Linked DNA regions of Homo sapiens: region 1 is linked to region 2. The links come from fine-mapping of genetic effects on gene expression. Tissue or cell type: whole blood. Region 2 holds a variant in brackets; the other region holds the start of a gene. All regions are shown on one strand. Distances are between the middles of the regions.

Region 1 (5,132 bases), 54 kb after region 2:
GGTTGTGAGAAAACTAAAGAGAACAGGTCTTAAGCTATGTTTAACCTTAACTTTGTGCTGATTTGACAACAAGGAAGGCATTTTGGCCAGAGTAAATTTTTTAAAACTCTTTCCAGCGGGACCTCAGAGAATCATTTCCAAATAGATGAGAAGTTCCTTCCTACTTTAATAAAACTCCGGAATTCTTCCCCCTCTCTTGCTGTCTCATCCTTTACCTTCTGGATTTAGGTGCTTTTTAATTCCAGTTCAGGAAAGATAGGAAGAGTAGAATTTCCCCACAGCAACCTTGCTCCTGACATTGGGGATTCCGCCCCTGATCTCTGAAGACTGCTTCTTGTTTGTTCCTCTGTGAGCCTTAAGGATTCCTCCACAGCTGGATGTGCAGAACAATTCTTTGTCAAAAACATCACTTTTCAGCTCTATGTCCAATTTTCCTTGAGCTGTCTGTGTCTTCAAGCAATCAATAGTCTCCTTATGCCCAACCACAATCTATTCTGCTTTAAGACGTAGCCTCTTGTTTGGTTCTCTCTAAACATGTACTGTTAACTGTTGAGCATCCTCATAAGATCCCTCTTAGACTAAAAGACAGTCATGCAATTTTAATTTTCCCTTATCCATTTATTTTTTTAATCTGATTTTCTGTATTTGCCCACGGCCAGTACTTGTGGAGAGTTTAAAATTTTATAAATTAAAATTCCATTTAAATTAAGCATTTTGTCGCATGTTCTCTGTACCAGGCACCATACTGAATTTGAATTGAAGGGTAAATAAAAATAATTCCTGCCCTCAGGAGGCTCACACTTAGCTGTGGGAGAGAGACATGTGTACAGCTGTCAAATTTAGCAGTCTGAAAAGTTTTGGTGGAACAGTACACACTAGGTAATGTGGGAGCAAGAGGGAGAGGGAGGTCAGAAAGGCTTTGACACATGAGGAGCAGTTCATGGAGCAGGGAAAAGGGAATGGCATCCATGCAGCTAGAATGCTACATAAAGGCACAGAGGTGTGAAAATGTAAGAGAAGGCTGGAGAATTGCATTTTTATTCTCTAATCAGGTTAATATTCCTGTTCACCAAGAAAGCTTTTAGCTAGCATATAACCCTCTTAGGTAATTGGAATTTGGGGGGCTATTTAATAGGAAACTTTTTCCTAGAGATGATATTTACCGTTGAAAACACGTAGCTCAGTATCAACTGGACTTACACCATATGTTCACTGACATTCTGCAGCAGGAAGGTCAGCGGCTCTAGAGCACCAACAAGAAGGTATCCAGAGAGAGCCCAGATTGGGCTGGGAGAATGGGTGAGTGTCAACTGGACTTACACCATGTGTTCACTGACATTCTGCAGCAGGAAGGTCAGCGGCTCTAGAGCACCAACAAGAAGGTATCCAGAGAGAGCCCAGATTGGGCTGGGAGAATGGGTGAGTGTCAACTGGACTTACACCATGTGTTCACTGACATTCTGCAGCAGGAAGGTCAGCGGCTCTAGAGCACCAACAAGAAGGTATCCAGAGAGAGCCCAGATTGGGCTGGGAGAATGGGTGAGAGAATGGGGACTCAGGGTCTTGTTAAAGGCAGAGCACAGGTTCTGAGAAGTTGGAAAGGGTTAGATGGGAGTGTGTGTGTGCAGGGGGATGTTGGAGCCTGGAAAATACCAACCATTTGTCTTTTACACTCTAAAGGTAGTTGTGCTCCCCAAGTGAATAAGGTGGGACATGTGCACGTCAGGTTTTCAGTGTGAAACCTGGTATATTTCCAAATGAAAGTGATTGGATTCAGGTGACCATTTAAATTATGTCTATGAAAAAAGAAAATAGACTTGGGGCCTTGATAAGCCTTTAGCTAGGGAAGTAGGAAAAAGACTCAAATGTCTGGGTTGGAGGGAAGACTCCTGTACTCAGTCTCAGATTGTTTTCCTTATTCACTTGCTTCAGAATAATCCAGGCTGCAAACTATTGGGACCCACCCCAGAACTACTGAATCACGATCTCTGAGGGTGGAATTCAGGAATGATGATAATTTCTCCAGGATATAGGGATTTTCCTTAGAGGGAAAAATAATTTGACCACAGGCCGTCCCAGCTCCTACCTCCGGACCTGGAGCTCGTGATTCCCAGGCTCTCATTCCGGTCTGCGGTGGCCGGCTCACCTGGCCTGTCTACCTGCGGGCGTGGCGGGGTTGGAGAGGGGAGCGGGACCCGCGACCCCGCCCCGTGGCCCGGCCGGAGCCCCGCCCCTCGGGGGCGGGTGGGGAGAGCTGCCGCGGCCGAGGCCCGCCCCAACCTTGGCTGCGCCAATCAGGCACTGCGATCTCAGACGTCGGGTTACGCGCGGCGCGGAGTCGGCGGCCGGGCGGAGGTACCGGCTCAGGCTTGGGATCCCGGCTGCGGGTTTGGCGGCGCTGCGCCGGCAGGCAGCGAGGCCGGGCGGGCCCTGGGCCCTCGCGCCCCTCCCGCGAGGCCTGTCATGCAGGGCCCCGCCGGGAACGCGAGCCGGGGACTGCCAGGCGGGCCGCCCTCCACAGTCGCGTCCGGGGCGGGCCGCTGCGAGAGCGGCGCGCTCATGCACAGCTTCGGCATCTTCCTGCAGGGGCTGCTCGGCGTCGTGGCCTTCAGCACGTTAATGCGTGAGTCTGGGACCCCCCGACCCTCCGGAGGCCCTGCGCGGCAGCCGCGGCCCGGCCCCCCTGGGGGCCCCTCCTGCGCGGAGAGTTCAGGCCTTGGGACCCGAATTGCTCCTCCCCCGCAAACCCAGGCTGGGTATTCCTGCACTAGGGGTAGCCCGAGCCCCTCACCTACTCGCTGTGGCCTCCAGACAGGAGTGACCCTTCCCCTTTCCACCTTAAACGTCTGTCTTTTGAGACGCCAGTCTAAAACTCGCCTACCTCCCACCTTACCATCTCGAATTGTTACCCCACTTCCCAGCCTGGAATCATGACCCCCAAGGGTGACATCCCCTTGTCCGCCCCTTCTCAGGGGCTCTTCGTGCTTAGAACCCACATCCCTCAATCCCCAGTGCGATGCTGAGCTCTTTTCTGCCCCTTCACTCTTCAAGGATCTGCCTTCTCCGTTCACATTTAAATCCTGCTACTTTGCATCCCTCTCAACACCTGGAGTGTTAGGGCCATGCCTTCCGTTTCCCAGTACCCGCCTCCCTCTCCGTGGCCCTTCTTCCTCAGCTTTAGTTTCCCTTTTGTCAGGGTAGGACCCACCCAGTCTGCCTTCTTCCCCAGATCCCCTTCCTCTCGTTTCTTCCGGAACAGGCCCACCTGTTCCATCTCTGTCCCAAGCTTTCCTAATAAGCCGCATCTATAGCTTCCCCTGGCTGTTCCCTTTCCACTTTTATTCTTTATATTTTAAGTTTCCTTTTCCATTAAACTTGGGCACCTTAGTGGCTGAATAGAGAAGGAAGCCCCCACCCTGTTCTCATGTGTGCTGATGGGGGGTGGGGGGGGGCTTCTGTTTTTCATCGTGTGCATCCTTCCCTTATTAAAGTAACAAGAAGTTTTGCTCGACATGTAAGCCTAGGAGTGCCCTTGTGACTGCGTTTTAGGGGGAAGGAAAGGTTATAACTATCTGTGCAGAGTCATTAATTCCAAAAATGACTTGTTCTCAAAACTTCCCCACTGTGCTTGTGTGGACAGAGTGGAGAGTTCCTGCAGAAAGTATGCTTTGGGGTACTCAGGAGGGATCTTGCAGCTGTGTGCCTTTGTCTTGTGGGGTCCAGTTGCTGGAGTGGCCACCTTGCTTGTTTATAACTTGGGGTTTCTTTGAGTGAATTCTCTCAGGCTTTAAGTAACCCTGAAGAGGCTCTGATCATGGATACCGCGTTCTTCTGGTGGCCTGTCCTTGATAAGTCTTATAAGTGCCCAACTGTCTATGTTTGCCACTTTTTCTTTCCTTTTTAGTCCCAACTTGCCTTGCTTTTTCTCTGCTAAACAAATACCCACTTGTTCCCACAGTAATAATTTGTGACAACTTAGCCAAAATCCGCTGCTGACTTGGGCGCATGTACTGTACGTGTGTGTTTTCAAGACATGGTGAGTGGATCTTCATACCCCTCCTACTTCTCTGTCCTCCAGACAGCCTTCCTTTCTCTCTGAAGGAAGTGTAGGTTAAATTTTTCTTTTGCTCCCTAACCTGAGGTTTCTTAGCCTAGCTCTGGCTGTTTCCATAGGTTTGATTGATGCTGATGGCCCGGCTTGTCCCCTAGGGTTTGACACTTGTGATTCAGAGAAGGAAATGTGATGATGACAGGGCAGAGTTGCTCACAGCTGAGAAGTGTATCGGGTTGAATGTGTTCTGAGTGGAGTCTTCAGGGACATATTCACTTCTTTACTTAATCTTCAGCGTGAGCACATGTGCAAATCCCACTGTGGTTGGTACTTTCTGTGTGCAGAGATTGAACTAGAAAGCAGTCTCTTGTTCACTGTGAGGCTTGACGTGGACGGAGCTTGTGGAAATGGCTGGTGGGTCCTGGGGTGATGTGGGTAGGAGTGATGGGGAGAAGAGCTGGAAAGGCTAGAGCTATGTCTGCCCTGACACAGAAATGGAGGTGAGAGCAAGAGCCTCCTCCCCCTACCTAGAAGCAGACAGAGCAGGCCAGGGCAATGGTACTCTGGGAGCTGGACAAGAAGAAGCCCACTGACTGGGATGCAGTCAGGGTGGGGCCCTTCTTATCTCTCAGATTTCTTGGTCCTGTTGAAATAGAACTGCGAGGCTTTTCCTTCTTGAACTACTGGGAAGAGGAAGAAATCTCTAAGGTGGAAGAGGAACGAGATCAAGGTAGCCTTAAGGAAGTACATCTGCGAGCCATTTGGCTTTGTCCTGGGCTATTAGTCCTCCGTCCTTCTCAGTCTGGCGGAGCTGCCAGGAGGGGCATCTGTTGAAGGCCAGGCTCCCCTGACGAGGGTCCCCCTCGCAGCCCTGAGGGAGGGAAGTCTTAGTGTGTGTTAAGGTGAGGCCACTCCATCCTTCCTCAGTTCTGTTATCTTCAAACATTTTAAATACCAACCAGTCTGTTCTGAGCAGTTTAAACAGCCGTTGTCCTTTGAGGGGCTGTTTTTGAGATCACAGTCTTTTCCCTTCTGAGTACCCGTGGCCCTCGAGGCAATGGGCTCACTGCCTGTCTTCTGG
Region 2 (5,232 bases):
GATGGTCTCGATCTCCTGACCGCGTGATCCTCCCACCTCAGCCTCCCAAAGTGCTGGGATTACAGGCATGAGCCACTGTGCCTGGTCACACTTGCCATATTCTAAAATCCTTTTTGGTTTTGTGTATTTTCTGCTACTCAATGCATGACTTATCTTTTTGACCATTTATGAATATTCCTTTACTTTTGTCAAAAAACCTTGTCATAAATTGAAAAAAATTATTGTACTTTGTTACATTTACTTTGTTGCATTCATTGAAAGTAATTTCAATAGCATTATTTGCTGTCACTCTTACTGAGCAGAACATAAGTATGACATGCATATTTACATGTCATATTAGTGGCCTGTGCAGCCTGGTTTTATGCCCTAACAACCCAGTTTAATGCCTTGTCAATGACAACATATTTGCCCTGTGTAATGACTTTAGAATGTAAGAAAGTACCCCAAATTTTGTTTATAATTTATATCTAGACCTAGGTTTTTTTTTTGGTGAGGGGGGTAGGGGGTCAGTGTCTCACTCCATCGCCCATCATAGCTCACTGCAGCCTCAACCCCCTGGGCTCAGGTGACCCTCCCACCTCAGCCTCTTAAGTAACTGGGACTACAGGTGTACACCACCACACCCAGCTAATTTTTAGTAGAGATGGTGTTTCACCATGTCGGCCAGTCTTAAACTCCTGGGCTTAAACAATCTTCCTGCCTTGGCCTCCCAGAGTGCTGGGATTACAGGCGTGAGCTACTGTGCCCATCCTAGACCTAGTTTTTAACCTGTTTACTCAAACTCCCTCTTAAAACACACAGAATAATTAATTCTAAAACTACTTATTTCATATTTGTCATAGTCTGCTTGGGCTGCCATAACAAAATATCATAGACTAGGTGGCTTAAACAACTGACATTTATCTTCTCACAGTTATGGAGACTGAAAGCCTAGGTGTGTAGCTGCTTTCTGGTGAGGGCCCTCTTTCTGGCTTGCAGATAGTTGCCACCTTGCTGTGTCTTCACATGGTAGAAACAGTAAGAGTTCTGTGGTGTCTCTTCTTAAAGGAAGAAGAACCAATTCTGTTAGATCAGGGCTCCATCCTTATGACCTCTAAATGTTTGTGCCCTCCCAAAATTTATATGTTGAAACCTAATCCCCATTGCGTTGGTATGAAGAGGTGGGGCCTTGGAGAGGTGATTCGGCCATAAAGGTTTTTTCTCATGAATGGGATTAGCACCATTATAAAGGAGGCTTGAGAGAGCTTGTTTGCTCAACTTCCACCATGTGAAGACAGCAAGAAGGCACCATCTTTGAAGCAGAAAGTGAACCCTCACCAGATTCTGAATCCCCTGGGGCCTTCATCTTGGACTTTCCAGCCTCCAGAATTGTGAGCAGTAAATTTCTGTTGTTTATACATTTTCCAGCCTAAGATATTTTGGTGTAGCACCCCAGATGGACTAAGACAACCTTCATAAAGGGCCTATATCCAAACAGTCATACTGGAGCTTAGGGTTTGAACATACAAATTTTGGGGTGAACAGTTTAGCCCATAGCAATGTTCAGTAGGGCATACTTCTTTTGTTCTAGGATTTGTGAAGACACTGATGCACAGTCAGTGTTGTCTGTGAATATAAACCATATTCTTTTAGCTGTTGTCTTTATATGCTAAAGAGTCCTGCCATTCTCCTGCCTCAGCCTCCCGAGTAGCTGGGACTGCAGGCGCCCGCCATCACACCCGGCCAATTTTTTGTATTTTTAGTAGAGATGGGGTTTCACCGTGTTAGCCAGGATGGTCTCGATCTCCTGACCTCGTGATCCGCCCGCCTCAGCCTCCCAAAGTGCTGGGATTACAGGCGTGAGCCACCATGCACAGCGAGTCCCACTATTTTTAGTTTTCCGTGTGTAAAAACTCAGTCATGTTAGCTGCCCTTTTTGATTATTCTTTGTTCATTTATATCTCTCTTAAAGTGGTGAGAATTACATATTTCAGATAAGGATTTTATTTCATATTGCATTGTTGGGAGCAAGCCCCTCAAAGTCTGGCCATAAACTGGCCCCAAAACTGGCCATAAATAAAATCTCTGCAGCACTGTAACATGTCTATAATGGCCCTAACGCCCAAGCTGGAAGGTTGTGGGTTTATGGGAATGAGGGCAAGGAACACCTGGCCCGCCCAGGGCAGAAAACCGCTTAAAGGCATTCTTTAGACACAAACTAAAGCATGAGCAATCTGTGTCTTTAAGGGCATGTTCCTGCTGCAGTTAAATAGCCCAACCTATTCATTTAATTCGGCCCAGATCACCTGAGGTCAGAAGTTCGAGACCAGCCTGGCCAACATGATGAAACCCCTTCTCTACTAAAAATACAAAAATTAGCCAGTCGTAGCAAGCACCTGTAATCCCAGCTACTCAGGAGGCTGAGGCAGGAGAATCACTTGAACCCAAGAGGCGGAGGTTGCAGTGAGCCAAGATCATGCCACTGCACTCCAGCCTGGGCAACAAGAGCAAAATGCCATCTCAAAAAAAAAAAAAAAGAATTTCTTTTAATATTTCTTGCAAGACAGGTCTACTGGTGACAGAATCCCTTAATTTTTGTTTGCCTGAGAAAATCTTTAGTACTTTTTAAGGATAATTTTGCTTGATACACAGCTCTAAATTAGTGGCTTTTTGCTTTAAA[T/C]GCCTTAACTATTTCAGTCCTCTCTATCCTTGCTTGCATGGTTTCTGAGGAAGGAAAAAAGAGTGTTAGAGAAGGAATGTGTGTTTTTTTTTTTTTTTTTGGAGAAGGAATTTTAAAATGTAAAAGAAAACCTTGGATTTTTCTTTTTTTTTTTTTTTTAAGATAAGAGTCTTGCTCTGTTGCCCAGACTGGAGTGCAGTGGTGTGATCCTAGCTCACTGCAGCTTCAGGCTCAAGCAGTCCTCCTGCCTCAGCCTCCAGAGTAGCTGAGACTACAGACACCCACCACCATGCTTGACTAACTTAAAAAAATATATATATATTTTGGTAGAGATGGGTCTTGCTATGTTGCCCAGGCTGGTTTTGAACTCCTTGCCTCAAGGGAACCTCCTGCCTTGGCCTCCCAAAATGCTGGGATTATGCCATGAGCCACCATGCCTGGCCTAATATTTCTTATTCTTTATTGAGGGAACATATAACAGTTTATTCAAAATAATGACAGCAGCCGGGCACGGTGGCTCACGCCTGTAATCCCAGCACTTTGGGAGGCCATGGCGGGTGGATCACCTGAGGTCAGGAGTTCAAGACCAGCCTGGCCGACATGGTGAAACCTTGTCTCTACAAAAATACAAAAATTAGACAGGCATGATGGTGGGTGCCTGTAATTCCAGCTGCTTGGGAGGCTGAGACGGGAGAATTGCTTGAATCTGGGAGGCGGAGGTTGCAGTGAGCTGAGATTGCGCCATTGCACTCCAGCCTGGGCAACAGAGCGAGACTCCATCTCAAAACACAAACAAAAAAAGTAATGACAGCAACAATTTATTTGATTATGTATGCTTATGTATAAATATATGCTAAGGCATGCTTACATATATAAATGGTAGCAATGATACAGGGGAAGAAATGGCAGAATTAGAATTGTTATTATAAGGGTTTTTTAAAATCACAAATTGGATTTGGATTAGTTTAAATGTATATTGTAAACTCTAGGGCAACTACTAAAAACAGTTAAAAGAAATATAATATGCTAAGAAGGCAAAGTGGAATAATATAAAATGCCTGTTTAAAACCACAGAAGGCAGATAAAGAGTGAAAGACAAAATGGAAACAAAGAAGAAGGCAACAAATAGAAAACACTAACATATATGGTAGATATTAATCCAACTATATCAGTAATCACTTTGAATGTCAGTGGTCTAAATGCACTGTTAAAAAGATGGAGATTATCAGAGTGGATCAAAAAATATGACCCAACTATATGTTGTCTATAATAAAAGCACTTTAAATATAAAGAGACATATAGGTTAAAAGTAAATGGATGGAGAAAGATATACCATGCTAACACTAACAAAAAAAAGACCTAGCTGTATTAATGTCAGACAGAGCTGACTTCAAAGCAAGGAATGTTAGGACATTACGCCTGTAATCCCAGCACTTTGGGAGGCCGAGATGAGTGCATCATTTGAGGTCGGGAGTTCAAGACCAGTCTGACCAACATGGAGAAACCCTGTTTCTACTAAAAATACAAAATTAGCCAGGCGTGGTGGTGCATGCCTGTAATCCCAGCTACTCAGGAAGGCTCAGGCAGGAGAATCGCTTGAATCTAGGAGGCGGAGGTTGCGGTGAGCCGAGATCATGCCACTGCACTCCAGCTTGGGCAACAAGAGTGAAACTCGGTCTCAAAAAAAAAAAAAAAAAAAAAAAAAAAGAAGGACATTACATAATAATAAAGGGGTCAGTTCTTCAAGAAGACGTAACAGTCCTTAAAATGTATGCATCTAACAACAGAATGTAAAAATACGCAAGTCAAAACCTGGTAGAACTGCATGGAGAAACAAATGGATTCAATATTATTAGTCGGGAAATTCAACGCCCTCCTATCGAAAATGGACAGATCCAGCAGGCAGAAAATTAGTAAGGACATTGTTGAGCTCTGCAATACCATCAATCAACTGGATATAATGGACATCTATAGACTACTTCAACAACAGCAGAAGATACATTCTTCTCAAGCTCACATGGAACATTCACAAAGATAGACCACACCCAGGCCCATAAAGCACACCTTAACAAATTTAAAATAATATAAATCATACAGTGTGCTCTCAAACCACAGTGAAATTAAACTAGAAATCAATAACAGAAAGATAGCTGGAAAGTCCCTAGTTACTTAGAGATTAAACAACACACTTGTGAATAACACGGATAAAAGAAGCGGTCTCGGGAAACTTTGAAATATTTGGAACTAAATGAAAATGCAGTAACATCAGAAACATAAAATGTCTAGGATTAAATGTAAAAAAAATTGCAAGGATGCTGGGTGCAGTGGCTCACACCTGTAATCCCAGCACTTTGGGAGCCAAGGTGGGAGAATTGCTTGAGCCCAGGAATGCGAGACCAGCCTGGGCAATATAGTGAGACCTTTTCTACAAAAAAAAAAAAAAAAAAAAATTAAAAATTAGCCAGGCATGGTGGAGCACACCTGTAATCCTAGCTACATCAGAGGCTGGGGTGGGGGGATCCTTTGAGCCCAGGAGACAGAGGTTGCAGTGACCCGAGATTGTGCCGCTGTAC

The links. PIP is the estimated chance that this variant, and not a neighbour inherited with it, causes the effect.
Region 1: it holds the start of STIMATE, and the variant in region 2 is fine-mapped to the expression of STIMATE in whole blood (TOPMed, PIP 0.92).

What each region holds. Positions count from the first base shown.
Region 1 is chr3:52,894,782-52,899,913 of GRCh38, reverse strand. STIMATE (STIM activating enhancer) reads left to right here and starts at 2,366. Exons shown (of 8, transcript NM_198563.5): 1 at 2,366-2,623. The coding sequence starts at 2,464. It overlaps STIMATE-MUSTN1 (STIMATE-MUSTN1 readthrough), which reads left to right and starts at 2,366. Exons shown (of 10, transcript NM_001198974.3): 1 at 2,366-2,623. The coding sequence starts at 2,464. RefSeq lists a silencer at 2,104-2,813.
Region 2 is chr3:52,948,703-52,953,934 of GRCh38, reverse strand. The region is part of intron 3 of SFMBT1 (Scm like with four mbt domains 1); the gene reads left to right. Among named protein-coding and RNA genes, the nearest start is that of STIMATE-MUSTN1, 54 kb to the right of the region's middle. The variant T/C (reference allele first, on the strand shown) is at 2,660.